4 separate regions of the Homo sapiens genome follow, and all the other regions are linked to region 3. Evidence: fine-mapped expression QTL. A gene starts in region 3. Each other region holds a variant in brackets. All regions are shown on one strand. Distances are from middle to middle.

Evidence for each region. PIP is the estimated chance that this variant, and not a neighbour inherited with it, causes the effect. A credible set is the group of variants that fine-mapping cannot tell apart.
Region 1: its variant is the best candidate, but not a certain one, in a credible set for the expression of SNAP29 in whole blood (INTERVAL, PIP 0.61).
Region 2: its variant is the best candidate, but not a certain one, in a credible set for the expression of SNAP29 in whole blood (TOPMed, PIP 0.62).
Region 4: its variant is the best candidate, but not a certain one, in a credible set for the expression of SNAP29 in whole blood (INTERVAL, PIP 0.74).

The regions. Positions count from the first base shown.
Region 1 is chr22:20,963,111-20,968,367 of GRCh38, forward strand. It overlaps AIFM3 (AIF family member 3), which reads left to right and starts at 4,145. Exons shown (of 21, transcript NM_001386814.1): 1 at 4,145-4,193; 2 at 4,695-4,865. The coding sequence starts at 4,835. LINC01637 (long intergenic non-protein coding RNA 1637) reads left to right here. Exons shown (of 2, transcript NR_110537.1): 2 at 1,281-1,570. The variant G/C (reference allele first, on the strand shown) is at 3,133.
Region 2 is chr22:20,776,034-20,781,033 of GRCh38, forward strand. The region is part of intron 19 of PI4KA (phosphatidylinositol 4-kinase alpha); the gene reads right to left. It overlaps SERPIND1 (serpin family D member 1), which reads left to right. Exons shown (of 5, transcript NM_000185.4): 2 at 3,264-4,168. The coding sequence starts at 3,280. Among named protein-coding and RNA genes, the nearest start is that of SERPIND1, 4.4 kb to the left of the region's middle. RefSeq lists an enhancer at 1,768-2,062. The variant T/C (reference allele first, on the strand shown) is at 3,061.
Region 3 is chr22:20,856,676-20,861,887 of GRCh38, forward strand. SNAP29 (synaptosome associated protein 29) reads left to right here and starts at 2,332. Exons shown (of 5, transcript NM_004782.4): 1 at 2,332-2,672. The coding sequence starts at 2,436. PI4KA (phosphatidylinositol 4-kinase alpha) reads right to left here and starts at 2,136. Exons shown (of 55, transcript NM_058004.4): 1 at 1,895-2,136. The coding sequence starts at 2,050. RefSeq lists silencers at 1,745-1,794, 1,815-2,574 and an enhancer at 2,254-3,063.
Region 4 is chr22:20,823,138-20,828,137 of GRCh38, forward strand. It overlaps PI4KA (phosphatidylinositol 4-kinase alpha), which reads right to left. Exons shown (of 55, transcript NM_058004.4): 4 at 1,189-1,277. Among named protein-coding and RNA genes, the nearest start is that of PI4KA, 33 kb to the right of the region's middle. The variant C/CAAAAA (reference allele first, on the strand shown) is at 1,932.

The DNA.
Region 1 (5,257 bases), 110 kb after region 3:
TGCTGGAATATTATCGTCTTTCCAGAACTATCCCTGGGGCAATATCAGGACCTCAGGCTGCCCGGGGCTCAGAGCCCTCCTGGGTCTTCCTGGGGCCCCTGGTCCACATGCATCTCCACTAAGCCTGAGGGCCCTTCGGGAGAGGCAGCACTTTTAGCCTGCCCTTGGTTTTAGCTTTTGCTCTACGAAGATCTTGTGATTTCTGCCCCACCATGGGGCAGCAGGAACCTCAAGCACAGTGCCTGCGGCAAAGGGAGCCACAATGGACTTGCCCCAGGTCAGGCCTGCACTTGCCTTGTGTCAGGGTATCTCCCCAAGTTGCTGGCCTCAGTCCCTACACTGACCTGTTTCCCCAGCTTTATCTCTGGCACCCCAAACTCAGCAGCCCCGACCCCACTTCCCAAGCACCCCCTGTGCCTGGCTCTGTGCCTGTCATGGTGTCCTGGCAGCAGTCTGGGAGAGTATTTCAGTTACCTGCGGTGTCCTGGGAAGGCTGGAGCAGAGGGGTCCACTCACTGATTGCCAAGGTCACAGAACAGGACTTGCATTGTGCACTGGAGGCCCTGTGGTCTTGCATGAGCCTGGTAGGCCTCTCCCCTCCTGCTTCCAGCCCTCCATCTGGGAGGCCAGCCTGCCCAGGGCTGCTCTGCCACTTAGCAGCTGTGTGGCCCTGGAGAGTCCCTAACCTCACTGAACCTCAGTTTCTCCGTTTGTGAAATGGAGATAATACAAAGAGAACTTTCCTTCTCAGGCTGTTGTGATGGGTAAGGAAATAAATGCATGCAAAATCACAGCTGTAGTTACTATGAGGCACACTGTCTTCCTGGCTAGAGGAGATTCTGAAGGTGGGTGGGGCAGCAAGATCACCACGTGTATGAAATGGGGGCAGGCTGGTTGGAGACTGAGGGCACCAGCCCCAAGCACTGCCATCTGCCCTGTGATGGGACTCTCCTGTGGCAGTGGCAACGGTCCCACTGTGGAAGCAACACATGAGCTGAGAGGACTTGCCTGAACTGAGCCACATGTGCCCTCTGGGCCTGGTCACCCCACCACCTGCCCCCAGTGTGACCCATGCAGGGCCTGTTCCTGACCCTGAACGAGACCAGGACTCCCTGGGCTGCATTTCCTATCTGTAAAATTGTAGGAGGGTGGTGGTGGTGGGGGCTCGAACTTGCCCCCTGGGTGGGGTGGGGCATAAATAGTCCCAGAGGATGGCCTGGGAAGGCTGGCTGGGCCTGGCACAGGGGACTTTACTGCTGTCATTATTGTCCTCCTTACAGGAGAGGAGAGCAAGGCCCAGACCGGGGAGGAACCCACACAGCCTCTGTGCTCCAGCCTGCTTGAAAGACAAGGTCTACCTACAACGCAGAGATGCACACATTAAGGACAATGAAACACCCAAGTGTTAGGAACCAGAATAATCAGCCCTAATAGAGGGGAGGCTGATCAGGGAGGGCCTCCTGGAGGAGGAGGCACAACATCAGGGTGCACTGTGATTTCTGGAGACCCAAGGAGTTCTGGTAAATGACAGGTGAGAAAAAGAAAATGTAATAAAATATAATTGAAAACAGACCCTGGTATGTGTGGAGAGAGGGCCGGGAGGAACCTAGGACACCGGGGAACCTGAACTCCCCCAACCAGTGAAGGGAGCTGTGGGCAGCAAGGTTTGATTGGGGTTTTCTTTCTTGTGGAGGTTTCTCAGAGTGATTCAAGTTCCCCCACCCCGCCCACAGATGGTTCTGAGACTTTGGAAAGAAAGAAAAGGAAAAAAGACCCTGCCCGCGCCCCAGCTGGGCATCCCTGGGAGGTCGCGAGGATCCCCGGAGACCCAGACTCGGGCCCGGGGCGCCCCCGGCCAGAGCGGCCCCTGGCTGCCTCCCTACGCCCCGCGACTCCGGTCCGGACGCCGAGGGCCTCGGCCTGCCCCTGTCCCCCGGCCGCCCCCCACCTGCTCCGGCCCGGCGGGGCGGTGCTGGGCCCGCGGGCTCCCCGGCCGCAGTGCAAACGCAGCGCCAGACACGCCCCGCCCGCGCCTCCCCGCCCCCCCGCGCCCGCGGCCCCAAGCGGTTCCCGAGCCCAGGCCCGCGCCGAGCCCAGGTGAGCGCCCGCCCCGGGGACCCTGGTCCCCGGAACCCCGGTCCCCGCCCGCCGCCCCGCCTCTTCGCCCCGGCGCCGGGGGCCAGCGCTTGCGCTCCCAAGTCTCGGACCCCGGCCCGGCACGTTAGGGGCTGGGGGTTGGCAAGCGGGGCCAGAGGCACTGGCCGGGGTCCGAAGCTCACCTCGTCCTTCTCTCGTCCCACAACGGCCCCTTCCCGGCTCGCCGCGGGGCCCCACTGTGTGCCAGTCCCCCTTCTCGGGCTGCAAGGTCTGGCGGGGGCAACGGGACGGAGCCGGCGAGGCTGCTGGCATCGGCTTCCCAGAGAGAGGGAACTGCACGTGCAGAGGCGGGGAGAGTGGACAGAGGCTTGCCCTGAGCTCCGTGGGGGAGGGGAGAGCGCGGAGCCCCCACACTCGAAGGCAGGACTGGGATCAGATGCCACCCCTAGGACGCCTGGAAGCCACTGGGAGTCCGATCTGGGCAGGAGCCCTTGGGATGAGGCAGTGGGGGCAGGTGGCGAGAGGTGGAGGAGTGGGGAGAGGACCCTGCCCAGCCTGCACCCTGGGGGCGCCAGGAGCCCTGGGAGGGTCAGGTGGAGCAGGGGCCGCTCTGTGAGATGGGAGTAATCCAGTCCCGCCTCACAGGTCCTGGGGTCCCTGGGACAGACACAGACTCCTGCTGGGTGGTTAGCACTGGGCTCTGCTAGAACTTTTCTGCAGTGGGCAGCTCATGGGCAAGGAATAGCACTCGGGCGCTCTGCACTCTGGGGGTCCCTCCTGCCCTGCCCCTGGCAAGGACCTTTGCCTTTGAGTGGGGTGACTGGGCTCCAAGCCGATCTAGCACACAGTAGGCCGAAGGCACAGGGGCCCCACCCAGTCTCCTTCCTGGCCCAGGCCCTGGGGGATTCAGGTCCCTGGGTACTCGGGAAGGGACAGCACAGCCTGGGCAGGTCCCCAGTGGCAAGACCAGGTCTGACCTTTTCTGGGATCTGTGGCCCATCAGGTGAGGCCTGAGGTCAGCCAGGAAGGAAGCGG[G/C]CAGGGCTGAACCAGGGCTGAAACCAGGACCCAGGAAGGGACAGCCTAGTGCCCAGGGAAGGGGCAGGTGGGGCAGGTGGCAGTTGAGTTTTACAGACCTTCTTTGATGACAAGTGGGGGAAAGAGCCAAGGCACGCCCCAGTGGCTGTGGGAGCCACCGCCTCCTCCCCTGTAATGGGCACCTCGAGGACCGACAGGCGCAGGGGCCAGGCACCAAGGGTCCCTCTCCAACCTGGCCTTTTGTTTCCACCCCTTGCTCTCAGGCACCCACCCACGGCCCTTCCTGGTATCTGGACCAGACCAGGTGGGTCTCAGCCCCACCTCAAGTGAGACTTCAGGAAGAACTTCCAGAGGAAACTGGAGGATGGCAGTGGGATGGACTGTGGGGAGGTCATTTGCAAACAAGGCAGCTTATGCCTGTGCCCTGGGCCTTCCAAAGTCCACCTGTAGGCTGCATCTTCCGGAAGGCCCACCCTGTAGCCTGGAAGGCACCTGGCTACAGTGATCTCTCTGCTGTGCAGGTGTCCCCTCCCCCAGGGCACCTTGCAGGGCCTTAGGGTGATATGGGGGCTTTCTGGGCCCCTGCCCACCTTAAAACTGATCAAGGTGGGAGGGTGGGGTGGGAGGCCACAGGGATGCCCCTGCTGCTTGACCTTGATGGGACCTTGACCCCTTGCTTTCCCCATATGCTGTTGGGCATGACTGCCCACAGGCCTGGTGGGCGTTTGTGAAGGGCTGGAGTCGGGGGTAGGGGGAGCTTATGGCTGCTGGGCACAGGCGTGGCAGGGCTGTGTGCCTGGCTTCCCTTTCCCCTAACCCCATCAGGCCCGGGCTGGCCGCCCACTTCTGTTCACCACAGAGCAGGGTTTCCCTGGGGACCAGTGGACTGGCCCAGCCCCACACCGCCCCCCAGCCCCTCCTGGCCACAGCTTGAGCTGGGAGGAGGGTGGAGGCTGGGCCGCCTCCTGGACCCCTGCCCTCCCTGCCCGGCCTTCCAAGGCCCGGCAGCCTCAGTCCACTGCTGGGCCTGGAACACGGAGCAGTGGCTGCCCTGCGAGGAGGTGGGTGTCCGGAGTGCTAGCCAGGGTGGGGCTGGGCTAGGGGGAGCCTGATGTCACCCCCATTGTAGGAGGGAGAAGACCAAGGATGAGAAGGGCTTTGGCTTCCCCAAGGTGACCCCCTCTTTGAGCCTAGGCATAGTGGTCTCCCGGGAGAATGGAGGGTCCCAGAGCTCTCAGGCTGTGGGATTTGGAGAGGGGAAGGGGGGCACGAGGAGGCAGTAGAAATCAGGGAGGATTTCCTGGGCAAGGCAGCCGCGGGGCTGGACGATGGGCGGCCGAGGTTCGGGCAGAGGAACTCCACTGGAGGAGTGAGGGAGCTGAGCTTGGAGGGCTTCAAAGGGGAGGTGACCTCCAGGGCCCCACGCTCTGGGATCAGGCTCACGCCATGGTTCCCAGCTCAAATGTAAGACTCTTTCCGAAGCTCCCACTGTCTCTCTCCGTCCCTCTGTGTCTCTACCTGCCCACACGCCCCGGTCCTGATGGCTCCAGTCTCCCCTGCAGGTCCTAGAGCAGCTCCAGCAGGATGGCGGCTCCAGCGTCTCTAAGGCCTGCAGGGGGTCCAGCCCCATGGGGGGCGCCCTAGGCCTCCGACAGCTCCCCATCTGTGCTCCTGCCTGCCGGCCATCCTCAGGCCACTCGCCATGGGCGGCTGCTTCTCCAAACCCAAACCAGGTACCTCCTGTCTTCTTGTCTCCATCCTTTCTCCTCCCTCCCCGCCTCCTCCTCCCCCGTCTCCCCCCCCTCCCCCTCTGCACTCGGTAGGCCTCCGAAGTAGGTCAGGCTATCCAAGAACCCGCTCGGAATGTTAATACGCTGCCGCCAGGAGGGGGTAGGGGGCCTGGAGCAGTTCCCCCAGCTGGCCCCTGCTCCAGTGGGTGCCCCTTTTTCTTTGGGGCTTTGAGTGTTGGTGGTGGGAATAACAGCAGGACCCTTCTTGGAAAAGGAAAGTCAGGGTTCCTCCTGTTGCAGGGTTGGGGAAGGGGCTATGCCCCCAGGGCCAGGGAAGGGGGGAGCTGGGGACACGCTCAGCCACTCTGTGACCTAGGGCATGCAAGTTACCCCTC
Region 2 (5,000 bases), 81 kb before region 3:
TCTAGAGGCTGAGCATGGTAACTCATACCTGTAATTCCAGCACTTTGGGAGGCCAAGGCAGGAGAATTGCCTGAGCTCAGGAGTTTGAGACCTGTCTGGGCAACATGGTAAAACCCCATCTTTACCAAAAACACAAAAAATTAACTGGGTTTGGTGGCACACACCTGTGGTCCCAGCTACTTCAAAAGGCTGAGGTGGGAGGGTCTCTTGAGCCTGAGAGGAACAGGTGGCAGTGAACCAATATTGTGCCACTGCACTCCAGCCTGGGTGACAGAGTGAGACCCCGCCGTCTCAAAATAAAAATAAAAAGAAATCGTTTCTAGAAACTGTTTTCCCGTGTGTAAACTAGTGGCACTGCAGCCTGAGGCAGGTGCTGAGATGGGGACCTGGAAAAGGCAACAGGCATTTTGAGTCAGAAACAATGTGACTTTCCTGCTCCAAAATGTGCAATTCAAAAGTCTTTCTTAGTTGTGACTAAAACAAACTTTGAACTTACTATTTCAACAGTATTATAAGGGGAAGACCCAAGGAATGGGACTGGCACTGGGAAAACAGCTAGGAAGCTGCTCTGCACGGCCAGGGAGTCTGGAAGCATCCTGGTACTCCAGAGCGAACAAGGCTGAGCGCTTGATGTGGGGCTTAGAGGCTTAACCAACTTGGTTCGAATCTAGCCACTGCCACTTATTAGTGACAGTGACGAAAGGCTCAGTCTCCTGATATATAAAATGTTGGGAGGATGAAACTAAGTTACACGAAGTGCCTTATACAGCGTGTCAGGCATCCAACAGAGGCCATTATCAACATTAACCACACTGACAGCATTTCAAGCAGAGTATCCGAACAGTTACCCCATCTTCAGGCCTACTGAGTTCAAATATTTGCTTAACAAGAGCAGCCAGTAACTCTTACCTGGCCTCAACTGGCAGCAGATATTCTGGGCCTCAAATATCTATCTAATAGGAAATGGTCACAGACACAAAATAAGCTTAACAAAAGGCAGTTTTTTTTTGTTTTTTTTTTGTTTTCTGTTTTTTGAGATAAGGACTCACTCTATCCCCCAGGTTGGAGTGCAGTAGTGGCGTGATCACGGCTCACTGCAGACTCAAGTGATCCTCCTACTTCAGCCTCTCAAGTAGATGGGACCACAGGCGTGTGCCATCACACCAGGCTAATTATTTTTCTTTTCTTTTTTTTTTTTTTGAGACGGAGTTTCGCTCTTTTTGCCCAGGCTGGAGTGCAATGGTGCGATCTTGGCTCACCACAACCTCTGCCTCCTGAATTCAAACGAATCTCCTGCCTCAGCCTCCTAAGTATCTGGGATTACAGGCATGCGCCACCACGCCGGCTAATTTTTTTGTATTTTTTGTAGAGACAGGGTTTCTCCATGTTGGCCAGGCTGGTCTCGAACTCCCGACCTCAGATGATCCGCCCACCTCGGCCTCCCAAAGTGCTGGGATTACTGACCTGAGCCACCGCACCCAGCCTATTTATTTAATTTTTCACAGAGATGAGGTCTTGCTATGTTGCCCACACTGGTCTTGAGCTCCTGGGCTCAAGTGATCTTCCTGCCTTGGTCTCCCAGTGTTGGGATTATAGGCGTAAGCCACAGCGCCTGGCCGGCAGTTCTTTCTGGGGTGATTAGAAGTTGGGACCATGTATTACCTGTCTGAGTCAGCATTATAAACACCTATGGTCACTGTCCTGGCAAAACATGGAATCATCAAAGCTCATCTAACCAGAGTGCAGTTAATAACCAGGAAGTAAGCAAGAGAAAGACAAAGGATTTGGCAGTCAAAACAGATTTGACAGGCCAAGTCAGATCCTCCTCTGAACGAGTCAGAGGAACAAATAAAGACAGGATTGCCATAATGCCTCTGTGCTAAAAGCTTATCTTGTTTACTTAAATAAAGGGAGTGCCCCTCAGGTCTTGAGTAAGAGCTTGCTGACATCACCCTCACACAGACTTTATCTCTTGTTTCTAACCCTGTGTTAGAAGCAGTAACACAGAAGATTTAGTTGCTCCTGACAGCAGTGGGAGCTATTGTCTAAGAGATACAAAGGAGAAAAAAGTATACCTGCAGCAAGTGATATCACCTCTGGGGCTGCCACCACATCACCTCACTACGCCCTGAGGGGGTCTCAGCACTAGACAAGTTCCAAATCTTTTGCAAATTAAACAACCCCAGGTCAGGCGTGGTGGCTTATGCCTGTAATCCCAGCACTTTGGGGGGCTGAGGTGGGTGGATCACCTGAGGTCAGGAGTTTGAGACCAGCCTGGCCAACAGAGCAAAACCCCATCTCTACTAAACAAAATACAAAAATTAACCAGGCGTAGTGGTGTGCACCTGTAGTCCCAGCTACTTGGGAGGCTGAGGCAAGAGAATTGCTTGAGTCCAGGAGGCCGAAGTTGCAGTAAGCCGAGATCGCGCCACTGCACTCCAGCCTGGGTGACAGAGTGAGACTCCATTTCAAAAAATAAAAACAACAAAAGCCAATTACAACAACAACAACAAAAAAACAACGAATTAAACAACCCCAAAGATTGCACAAATTTCAAGTATCTTTAGAATATGTTTTCAGAAAGCCTGGCCCATGGACATTTTTCAACAGCATCTCCATTGCAAAGGTGGAATGGTGTGAGTCACACAGGCATGGCTGAGTCCCACTAATGCACATCCCTTCTAGGTACTCTCCAATCACCAGCCCCAGGTGCCCACTCAAGCCCAGCTCTTAGTGAGGTTTCCCTGACTCTCTGGGCACTTCCACTCCTACCACACAGGGTAGAGCCACACCCCTTTCCGTACCCCCATGTGCTCTGGCAGCATTATTTTGAGAGCCTTCGCTTTACTGCACGTCTGTCCCATCTGTCCCCTGACTGGTCCATGAGCCCCTGGTGGGAACTTTGTCTCTGGTAACTAAACACTGTCTGGAGGTGGTGGACAAGGTGTCTGGAGAAAAACAAACTCCTCCCTGGGATGCCTGAGCTCCCAGGATTCTAGAAGGTTAGTTTTGCAAACCTTTAAAGAAGGGATTTTCATCAAGGGGCCCACAGATCCTTCA[T/C]TGAGGTTTATGAGTCCCACATCAAAGGTTGGGTGTCTATCTACATCAGATTCTCTTAAAGTCCATGATCCTAAAACAGTTAAGAACTAATGCTGTGAGGGCCTCTTCCTGGGTCAAAGCCACAGGGAACCTGCCATGTGGATGCTGCAGCGGGGTGTGGATCAGCCAGGCCGCCTTTCACTGTGTTCTGTTTTCCCTCCCAGCTTTAGCTCCGCCAAAATGAAACACTCATTAAACGCACTTCTCATTTTCCTCATCATAACATCTGCGTGGGGTGGGAGCAAAGGCCCGCTGGATCAGCTAGAGAAAGGAGGGGAAACTGCTCAGTCTGCAGATCCCCAGTGGGAGCAGTTAAATAACAAAAACCTGAGCATGCCTCTTCTCCCTGCCGACTTCCACAAGGAAAACACCGTCACCAACGACTGGATTCCAGAGGGGGAGGAGGACGACGACTATCTGGACCTGGAGAAGATATTCAGTGAAGACGACGACTACATCGACATCGTCGACAGTCTGTCAGTTTCCCCGACAGACTCTGATGTGAGTGCTGGGAACATCCTCCAGCTTTTTCATGGCAAGAGCCGGATCCAGCGTCTTAACATCCTCAACGCCAAGTTCGCTTTCAACCTCTACCGAGTGCTGAAAGACCAGGTCAACACTTTCGATAACATCTTCATAGCACCCGTTGGCATTTCTACTGCGATGGGTATGATTTCCTTAGGTCTGAAGGGAGAGACCCATGAACAAGTGCACTCGATTTTGCATTTTAAAGACTTTGTTAATGCCAGCAGCAAGTATGAAATCACGACCATTCATAATCTCTTCCGTAAGCTGACTCATCGCCTCTTCAGGAGGAATTTTGGGTACACACTGCGGTCAGTCAATGACCTTTATATCCAGAAGCAGTTTCCAATCCTGCTTGACTTCAAAACTAAAGTAAGAGAGTATTACTTTGCTGAGGCCCAGATAGCTGACTTCTCAGACCCTGCCTTCATATCAAAAACCAACAACCACATCATGAAGCTCACCAAGGGCCTCATAAAAGATGCTCTGGAGAATATAGACCCTGCTACCCAGATGATGATTCTCAACTGCATCTACTTCAAAGGTAAGAGGCACCTTTACAGTTCTCACAGCAAACCCACAACATACTATTTTTGTATGTGGGTAGATTGAATGCCAAGAACTGTACTGTAGCTATAATTTATCCAGGAAAACTAGACACAAGATTGACTCTGGAACGGGGACAGGGAAGGCCAAGCTGAAGTGACAGTAGCATCTGACACTTACTGAGCCCTAACTCTGTGCTTTAACACAGCCTTGTGAGGTCATCACTGTTATTAGCATCCCCATTTTACAGAGGAAGCCACCAACACATGAAGTAAAAGGATGGGCTGGGCGCGGTGGCTCACGCCTGTAATCCCAGCACTTTGGGAGGCCGAGGCAGGCAGATCACTTGAGGTCAGGAGTTCGAGATCAGCCTGACCAACAGACCAACATGGTGAAAACCTGGCTCTACTAAAAATACAAAAATTAGCTGGGCCTGGCGGTGGGTGCCTGTACTCCCAGCTACTTGGGAGGCTGAGGCAGGAGAATCACTTGAACCTGGAAGGCAGAGATTGCAGTGAGCCGAGACTGTGCCACTGCACTCTAGCCTGGACGACAGAGTGAGACTCCATCTCAAAAAAAAAAAAAAAAGAAGTAAAACGATGCTCCAAGGGCACCCAGTTATTAAGGGGCAGAGCCAAAGCTGAACCCAGGGAGGCCAACCCTAGCAATCTGTTAAATTGGAAGAAATAATACAAAAACTGTTTTAGCATTTGGCCAGCCTGGATTTGAGTTTTCTCTTTTCCTTTCCCAATTATCAATAAGCAGGAATATAGACAAAAGGCTAAAGAAATGCACCTGTGAACTATTCAGCTTGAGCAGCTGACATTGAC
Region 3 (5,212 bases):
GCCTGTCTCAGCCTCCCAAAGTGCTGGGATTACAGGCATGAGCCACCGTGCCCCATCATAAAATATAATCTTGACAACTGAAGCAGTTATTACTACAAAGCTAAGAATGTTGCAATTACAGAATGTTCTCGTGACTAGTGAACATGGCTGAAGAAGCAAATTGAGCTCAAGGTGCCCTTTTCTGAGTTACTGAGTGGAAAGGGTGCTACCACTGCTGGAGCTGCAGGACCAGCTTCTTAAAGATCATCCAATTCACTGCATTCTCTTCTCTCTCCTCCCAGAATCCAGCAATCAGTCATAAGATATATTTGTTGGCTCTCCTGCTAAGAAGCGAATGTGCTGACTAGCTAGCATGAGTTTGATTCAATAAAACAGCACTACACTCCATTAGTCAGACTATCTAATGATAACAGTGCTCATACATTAGGTACCCACGTGCCTTTTTGTTGCTCTTCACAATACTCCTATGAAGTACTACCTTGTATTTGACAGAAGATAGCAAAGTATCAGAGAAGGGAACTGACCTGTCTAGAGTCACACTAGTGAAAGCAAGTGATACAGGATTTAAATTCAGAGGTTCCATTTTCCAAACTCATGTCCTTTCCATTGCATTGTACTCCCTCTTTAGCTAGAAGTCAGGTTAGCACCAATCTGCCGGGACCTTCTCACCCCGAAGGTGCATGATAAAATCAAATATGAGAACCGACAAGGCCAAGGACCAGGTCACTCTGCCAAAAGTGCCTAAAACAGCCTTTCAGCTTCATCCATCAGCAGACAGCCACAAAACCACTCCCAACTGCAGCAGGCTGGTCTCCGGTCACCACTGTCTTATCTTGTCGGAAAACATCCTCTCTCCATGTGCCAAAAAGTTGAGTGGGAAAATAATTCCATCCTTTCAGAGCTAAACACTGTGCTGAGTCTCATCGCACACGGGTGGGCAAAGAAAGTTGACATTTACTGCTCACCCACTCTGTGCCTTGACCTGTGCAAGATGCTTTATGCTAGAACTCATTTAATTCTCAAGAACAACCTCATTTTACAGATAAGGATACAGAGGCTCTAAGAGTTAAATTTACCCAAGAGGACATGGTAAGTAAGTGCCAGTGCAGGGAACAAATTCAGGTCCCACTCTAAAATCTGTCTCTTTCCAGATCTCAAGGCACACCACTGAGTTGCCTTTCACCTTTCTCCCAAGATGAGGATTGCTCTGGCATGACTTCACCTTTCTCTTCTGAAGCAATTCCAAGTTCACTTCTCTGCCCACTGACAGTTCACTCTCCTTTCCCTGCCACTGTCCCTTCTGCAAACGCACAATCTTTTACCCAACCTAACGCCCCCAGCCTCGTAGAATAACACTGCGCAGTTGGTTTACAGTCACAAAGCACTTTCAAGACAGTGTTTCGTCTCCTGGTCACCACAGTCCGGTGAAGCCGGCAAAGCAGATAAAAGCATCCCCATTTTACAAGAAAGCCATCTTCCCAAGGTCGCGGAATAAAAAGCAGGTGAAATCGGAAGCAGAACCCCAGGTCTTGACCCCTGGTCCTCGGCTCATCCCACTGCTCCGCACAGCCGCCCACGATCCAGCCTCCACCTCCGCGATGTCACAAGATGCTCCCTGGGCCAGCAGCTCACATCCCCCACCCCCATCCCACAACCACCCACCTGCAGCGGCCCTGCAGGCCCCGCCGACCCTTCCCCCACGGTCCCTCTCTCTTCACCAGCCCCTCCCACTAGGGCCTCCTTCCCCCGCTAGATCCCTCCGCTCAGGCGCCCCCTCCCGCACAGGCTGCCGGCGAGCCCAGCCTCGGCCTCCCACAGACCCTCGTCCCGCCTCCACGCTTCGTCACCCCAGCCCCTCCTCCTGTCAGCCCGCGGCCCAGCCCGCCGACGTTACCTTCTCCAAGGATGCTGGTCTCTGCACCGCCAGGGAGCGGGCCAGTGACAGGACCGTGTTGAAATAGAAGCCCCGCGAGGCGCTGGAGCCGGAGCCGGAGCAGCCGCCGCCGCCTCCGCCTCCGCCTCCGCCTCCCCGGGCCGGGGCCGCCGCCATCACCTCACGAGCCGCGGCGCTGCCCGCCGGCTCCCCGCTCCTGGCCCGCGAGCGCCCGACCTCAGGGCGCAGGCGTAGGTGCATCCGGCTTTCCCGCCACGTGACCTCTCAGTTGCTGACACTAGATAGGGCGTGGCTGCGGGGCGGGCCCACCGCTGCAGGGGAGAGAGGGGATGGACAGTAGGCTGCGGTTGCGCGCGCCGGATGTGGGCCCCCCCCAGCCGACCTGCGCGATGGTCGGCTCCGAGGGCGGGGCCACCTGCGCGCGACGCGCGGAAGGAGTTCGCGCGACGACCGCGGGGTCGGCGGGCGGGGCGAGGCCCTGGACGGCGGCGGCAGTGGGGCTCCTCCTTCTGTTTCCCAGACCGAGAGCCGCGCCGGCACCATGTCAGCTTACCCTAAAAGCTACAATCCGTTCGACGACGACGGGGAGGACGAAGGCGCCCGGCCGGCCCCTTGGAGGGACGCCCGAGACCTCCCCGACGGGCCCGACGCGCCCGCGGACAGGCAGCAGTACTTGCGGCAGGAGGTCCTCCGCAGGGCTGAGGCCACGGCCGCCAGCACCAGCAGGTCCCTGGCCCTCATGTACGAGTCCGAGAAGGTTGGGGTCGCCTCTTCCGAGGTGAGCCTGGGGCAGGGCTGGTGTGGACTCGCCGGTCTCTGTGCTGTCAAACGGAGACGAGAAATGTTTTGCTCACAATCTTTTGAGAATTCTCAAGTTGCCTAGCATAGATTCTTGCACCTTAGTGACTCGATGGTGGTAACAATCTGTTAACTATGTAAAGGTATGTGCATCTGGAGTACTTGAAGAGGGCAGTTTACCCCAGAAATCTTCCTTAGCTATTAGTCTGCTTCGTTGATTTTTTTTTTCTTACGCCTAGCTCACGGGGAAACGCCAGATTATTTTCTGTCCAGGTGAGTAAAAATTCTGAACAGCAGGTCCTAGGTTTGGGAAATGGAGAGTCCGTTTCTTCGACATTATTTCCTGTGCAAAATCTGGCACAGGGTTTTGGCCATTCCTTCCGGAGTGAGCCAGAAAGAGAGGACTATGTGCCTGCGAGTGTCAGGTGATACCCTGAAGCATCAGGGCAGGTGGTCCACGAGTTCTTCCCGCATCATTGACATCTCCACCTAACCAACCAATAGAGGTATTGAAGTCCCTTCAGCCCAGACAGCTGCCTAGTTGACCAAAGCCTGGGTTTGATTGAGTCCAGGGTCTTACCTTTACTTCCCAAATCCTAGACAAATAGTGTGCGGGTTAAGAGTTTGTTGCTCCAACTCATCTTCATCAGTTCTTCCCATCCTTAGATTTCAGAGAGTAGTACCTTCAATAACAATTATTCTGGCCGAGCGCAGTGACTCACGCCTGTAATCCCAGCACTTTGGGAGGCCTAGGCGTCGGATCGCCTGAGCTCAGGAGTTCGAGACCCGCCTGGGCAACATGGTGAAACCCTGTCTCCACTAAAATTAAAAAAAAAAAAAAACTAGCCGGGTGTGGCGGTGCGCCTGTAGTCGCAGCTACTCAGGAGGCTGAGGTAGGAGAATCGCTTGTACCCGGGAGGCAGAGGTTGCAGTTAGCTGAGATCGTGCTGCTGCACTCCAGCATGGGCAACAGACCGAGATCCTGGAGGGTCTTTTTCTTTTTCTTTTTTTTTTTTTTTTGAGATGGAATCTCGCTCTGTCGCCCTTGCTTGGGTACAGTGGCATGATCTGGGCTCACTGCAACTTCCGCCTCCGGGATTCAGACGATTCTCCTGCCTCAGCCTCCCGAGTAGCTGGGACTACAGGTGCGCCGCCACACCCGGCTAATTTTTTTTGTATTTGTAGTGGAGACAGGGTTTTGCCCCGTTGGCCAGGCTGGTCTGGAACTCCTGACCTCAGGCAGTCCGCCCGCTTTGGCCTCCCAAAGGGCTGGGATTACAGGCGTGAGCCACCATACCGGTCGAGAATGATTCTTTATTGTACACCACAGTCTCTCTTCAGCCTGCTAATGAAACAGTTTTGTTTGGACAGAGAAAAAAAAAGGTTTAAAAAAATGTATAAGCCAGGCGCGGTTGTACTTCTGTAATCCCAACAATTTGTAAGGCTGAGGTAGGCAGATCATTTTAGCCCAGGAGTTTGAGACCAGCAGGGGTAACTGCGTCTCTACAAAATTTGAAAAATTAGCCAGGCATGGTGGCACACACATGTGAGTGCAGCTACTGAGGAGGCTGAGGCAGGAGGACCGCTTGAGCCCAGGATGTCAAGGTTGCAGTGAGCCATGTTCATACCACTGCACTCCAGCTTGGGCGACAGAGCAACACGCTATCATTTCCCCTTGCTGTTTTCTTGGGTTAATTCCCTTCCCCACCTCTCTCTGTTCATGTATCCCTCATTGATCCACCTCCCTGTGGTTTTTTTTTTTTTTTTTTGAGACAGATTCTCGCTCTGTCACCAGACTGGAGTGCAGTGGCACCAACTTGGCTCACTACAGCCTCCGCCTCCTGGGTTCAAGTGATTCTCCTGCCTCAGCCTCCTGAGTAGCTGGGACTAAGGCGTGCACTACCACACCCAGCTAATTTTGGTATTAATAGAGTTGGGGTTTTGCCATGTTGGCCAGGATGGTCTCGATCTCTTGACCTCGTGATCCACCACCTCGGCCTCCCAAAGTCCTGGGATTATAGGCGTGAGCCACTGCACCTAGCCCACCTCCCTGTGTTTAACTGTTGGTTTTTTATTTTTGTTTTGTTTGAGACAAAGTCTTACTCTGTCACCCAGGCTGGAGTGCGATGGTGTGATCTCGGCTCACTGCAACCTCCACCTCCCCAGTTCAAATGATTCTCCTGCCTCAACCTCCCAAGTAGCTGGGATTAGAGGCACCTGCTACAACACCTGGCTAATTTTTTTGTTTTTGTTTTTGTTTTTGTTTTTTTGGTGTTTTTTGTTTTTGAGACGGAGTCTTGCTCTGTCTCCCAGGCTAGAGTTCAGTGGCGCGATCTCAGCTCACTGCTACCTCTGCCTCCCAGGTCAAGCGATTCTCCTGCCTCAACCTCCTGAGTAGCTGGGCTTACAGGCACCCGCCGCCATGCCCAGCTAATTTTTGTATTTTTAGTAGAGACGGGGTTTCACTGTGTTGGTCCGGCTGGTCTTGAACTCCTGACCTCATGATCCACCTGCCTTGGC
Region 4 (5,000 bases), 34 kb before region 3:
TCCTGACCTCAGGTGATCCACCCGCCTCAGCATCCCAAAGTGCTAGGATTACAAGCCTGAGCCACCGCACCCAGCCACTTTTTCCATTTTATATGTTAAAGTCATGTTATCACCTTTGGTGTTGACCTCTTTATTCTGATAAATTTTATTCATAGAAAAAAGCCCTTAATGTCCAACTTTTTAATAAAAACACATTATTCTAACATATTTAAGTATTTCTTTAGCCAACCTACAAATAAATGAAGAATCTAAATTAGTCAAAATACATCACTAACTGGGAACATTTAGAATGCAGACAAGCAACTAGGCACTGTTTGGAAGAACCTAGGAACAGCAGCATACAAAAACTAACTTTCTAAGCGATAAATTTAAGAAAAAGTTGTATGATTACATTCTTTGTTTAAAGAACAGGAAAGTATGAAATACATGTTTGTAACATTTCTATCAAAATTAACAAAATCTAAAGAAAGTCTGTGCCCTTAAAGATAAAAGCTTCAGCTACCTAGAAGATTCTCTTCTAGCTGGGCACAGTGGCTCACACCTATAATCCCAGCACTCTGGGAGGTCGAGGCAGAAGGATCACTTGAGGCCCGGAGTTCAAGACCAGCCTGGGCAACATGGCGAAACCTTGTCTCTACAAAAAATACAAAACAAATTAGCTGGCATGATGGTGCACGCCTATAGTCTCAGCTACTTGGGAGTCTTAGGAGGGAGGCTGGCTTGAGGTGGACGGCAGAGGTTGCAGTGAGCCAAGATTGCACCACTGCACTCCAGCCTGGATGACAGAGCAAGACTGCCTCAAAAAAAGAAAAGAAAATGATCTTCTATGAATGACTTCAATCCCCAACAAAGAGCAAGAAAAATGAGCTGCCTCTGCCTTTTTCTGCCGCCTACCTTAAAGGACTTTCTGAAAAGCTGAAAGGGATAGTGCTGCTCATGTCTCTGCAGCCCCTGCCCTTCATTAGAAAAAAGAAAAAAAAAAAAAGAAAAGTTTAATAAGATAAGACTCGAGATCCTAAAGAGTAGTGAAAGACCTAAGCATGTCTTAGGTCTGCTGTCAACAGGATGAAATAGATAAATATCAACAAACAATTCAATCACATTTCACGTTTTTAAAATCTTTTCATCACTTTGGGACTCTATTCAATCTAATAGAAATGCATACCAAATCAACCAACACATGCTTACCTCATCCCTAAGTGAAGGATCCCTATAGGCCACATCAGACAGCAGAGTTACCAAGCAGAAGCTGAAGCTCTCTGCAACCGGGAGGGCACCTGGAAGATGTAAAAACATAAATCAGATAACCAGGAACCAGATACTGGGTCACACCTCTGGCCATCCAATTCAATATGTTCCCTCTCACCATGACCTGCCAAGGGACCAGTTTACAGCAGCTGCCCTCCTTGAGACGAGTCTCAAAAGAACAGCTATGGGCCCAATGAGTTTGCTGAGAAACACCCTTACCTTTCCTTTAAGTAAATGTTTTGGTTCAATAAACTTAAATGTTTCCTGAGCCAATAGCTAGTGTGAGATAACAAAGCCTCTCAACATGACAGATTCAATTTTTTATTCCCTAAGTAAATGTGATAAATCACACACACACACACACACACACACACACACACACACACACACACACAAAACACTCGGCTGGGCGAAGTGGCTCAAGTCTGTAATCCCAGCACTTTTGGGGGGCCAAGGCAGACGGATCACCTGAGGTCGAGTTCAAGACCAGCCTGGCCAACATGGTGAAACCCCGTCTCTACTAAAAATACAAAAATTAGCTGGGTGTGGTGGCGCACACCTGTAATCCCAGCCACTTGGGAGGCTGAGACAGGAGAATAGCTCGAAGCCAGGAAGTGGAGGTTCCAGTGAGCCGAGATCGCACCACTGTACTCCAGCCTGGGTGACAGAATGAGACGCCATCT[C/CAAAAA]AAAAAAAAAAAAAAAAATCAATTTTGAATATTGAATGTTGAATCAAGGAAAAAAGAGTATCCACTATTTAATAGCTATATTCATAGTACATGACAGAAGACTTACATTTCTACTCCAGCACTTAAAATTTTAAAGTGCAGCTCTAGGCTGTTCTCAAACTTGAATGTGCCCATGCCCGGCCTAAAATTTGACCTTTTAGTAATGATGCTCTATTTAATTTGTAGTCCATCAAATTGCAGGACAGACTGGGTGCAGTGGCTCATGCCTATAGTCCTAGCACTTTAGGAGGCCAAAGCAGGCAGATCACTTGAGGCCAGGAGTTCAAGACCAGCCCAGCCAACATGGCAAAATACTATCTCTACCGAAAATACAAAAATTAGCCAGGCATGGTGATGCATGCCTGTAATCCCAGGTACTTGGGAGGCTGAGGCACGAGAATTGCTTGAACCCAGGAGGTGGAGGTTGCAGTGAACCGAGGTCAGGCCACTGCACTACAGCTTGGAGTGCAGACAGAGTGAGACTGTCTCAAAAAAACAAAAAACAAACAAAATCCTAACAAATTGCAGGTACATGCATAATTTGGGATCTGTCAGTTTTAGGCATGTTACCAGAAATGATGAAAACCCAAAGGTTAAGAGGAATACTGGCACAAACAGAATGTTTTTTAATTTTTATTTCAGGTTCAGGGGTACATACGCAGTTTTGTTATACAGGTAAACTGCATGTTACGGGGGTTTGGTGTACAGATTATTTCATCATCCCCGTAATAAGCATAGTACCCAGAAAGTAGTTTTCCCATCCTCACCTTCCTCCTATTCTCCACTCTTAAGTAGGCCCCAGTGTCTGCTGTTCCCTTCTGTGTTCATATGTACTCGAAGTTTAGCTCCCACTTACAAGTGAGAACATGCAGCGTTTGGTTTCCTGTTGCTGTGCTAATTCTCCCATAACGGTCTCCAGCTCCATCCATGTTGCTACAAAAGACGTGATCTTGGCCAGGTATGGTGGCCTCACACTTGTAATCCCAGCACTTTGGGAGGCTGAGGCAGGCAAATAACTTGAGGCCAGGAGTTCGAGACCAGCCTAGCCAACACGGCAAAACTCCATCTCCACTATAAATATAAAAATTAGCCGGGTGTAGTGGCACATGCCTATAATCCCAGCTACTTGGGAGGCTGAGACAGGAGAATCGCTCGAACCTGGGAGGCGAGGGTTGCAGTGAGCAGAGATCGCACCACTGCACTCCAAGCTGGGTGACAGAGCGAGATCGTCTCAAAAAAAGATAAAATAAAATAAAAAATAAAAGGACATAATCTTTTTCTTTTTTTATGGCTACACAGTACTCCACGGTACACATACGACATTTTCTTTATCCAGTCTTCCACTGATGGGCATTTAGGTTGATTCCTTATCTTTGTTATTGTGAATACTGCTGTAATAAACATACTTACGCATGCATCTTTACAGTAGAATGATTTACATTCCTTTGAGTATATACCCAATAATGGGATTGCTGGGTCAAATGGTAATCCTGTTTTAAATTCTTTCAGAAATTGCCAAACTGCATTCCACAATGGCTGAACTAATTTACATTCACACCAGCAGTGTGTAAGTGTTCCCTTTTCTCTACAACCTCACCAGCATCTGTTATTTCTTGACTTTTTAATAATAGCCATTCTGACTGGTGTGAGATGGTATCTCATTGCAATTTTGATTTGCATTTCTCTGATTATTAGCATCAGATGATGAGCATATTTTTCATATATTTTTGGCCACTTGTATGTCTTCTTTTGAGAAGTATCTATTCGTCCTTGGCTCACCTTTTAACGGGGTTTTTTTTTTGTTTGTAAATTTAAGTTCCTCATAGATTCTGGACTTTAGACCTTTGCATAGTTTGCAAATATTTTCTTTCATTCAGTAGGGTGGCTGTTTACTCTCTTGACAGTTTATTTTACTGTGCAGAAGCTCTTTAGTTTAATTAGGTCCCATTTGTCAATTTTTGTTTTTGCTGCAATTGCTTTTGGCATCTTTGTCATTAAATTTTTGCCATTAAATCTTTGCCAGGGTCTATGTCCAGAGTGGTATTTCCTAGTATCTTCCAGGGTGTTTATAGTTTAAGGTTTTACATCTAGATCTTTAATCCATCTTCAGTTGATTTTTGTATAAGGTGTAAGTAAGGGGTCTAGTTCCAATCTTCCGAATATAGCTAGCCAGTTATCCTAGCGCCATTTATTGAGCAGGGAGTCCTTTCCCCATTACTTGTTTTGTTGACTCTGTTGAAGATCAGATGGTTCCAGGTGTGCAGCATTATTTCTGGGCTCTCTATTCTATTTGTCTATGTGCTATTTTTTTTACCAGTACCATGCTGTTTTGGTTACTGTAGCCCTGTAGTAGAGGTGAAGTTTGAAGTTGGGTAATGTGATGTCTCCAGCTTTACTCTTTTTCAGACTACCTTAGTTATTCAGGCTCTTTTTTGGTTCCATAAAAATTTTAAAATAGTTTTTTTCTAATTCTGTGAAGAATGTCATTGGTAGTTTGATAGGAATAGCACTGAATCCATAAATTGCTCTGGGTAGTATGGCCATGTTAACAATATTGATTCTTCCTATCTATGAGCATGGGATGTTTTTCCATTTGTTTGTGTAAGCTCTGATTTCTTTCAGCAGTATTTTGTAATTCTTGCTATAGAGATTTTTCACCTCCCTGGTTAGCTGTATTCCAAGGTATTTTATCTTTTCTTTTTTTTGAGATGGAGTCTCACTCTGTCGCCCAGGCTGGAGGGCAGTGGCACAATCGCGGCTCACTGCAACCTCCGCCTCCCAGGTTCAAGCGATTCTCCTGCCTCAGCCTCCCAAGTAGCTGGGATTACAGGCGTGCACTACCATGCCCAGCTAATTTTTGTGTTTTTAGCAGAGATGGGTTTCACCATGTTGGCCAGGCTGGTGTCGAACTCCTGACCTCAAGTGATCCACCTGCCTCGGCCTCCCAAAGTGCTGGGATTACAGTCGTGAGCCACTATGCCCGACTGGTATTTTATTATTTTTGTGAATATTGTGAATGGGACTGTGTTC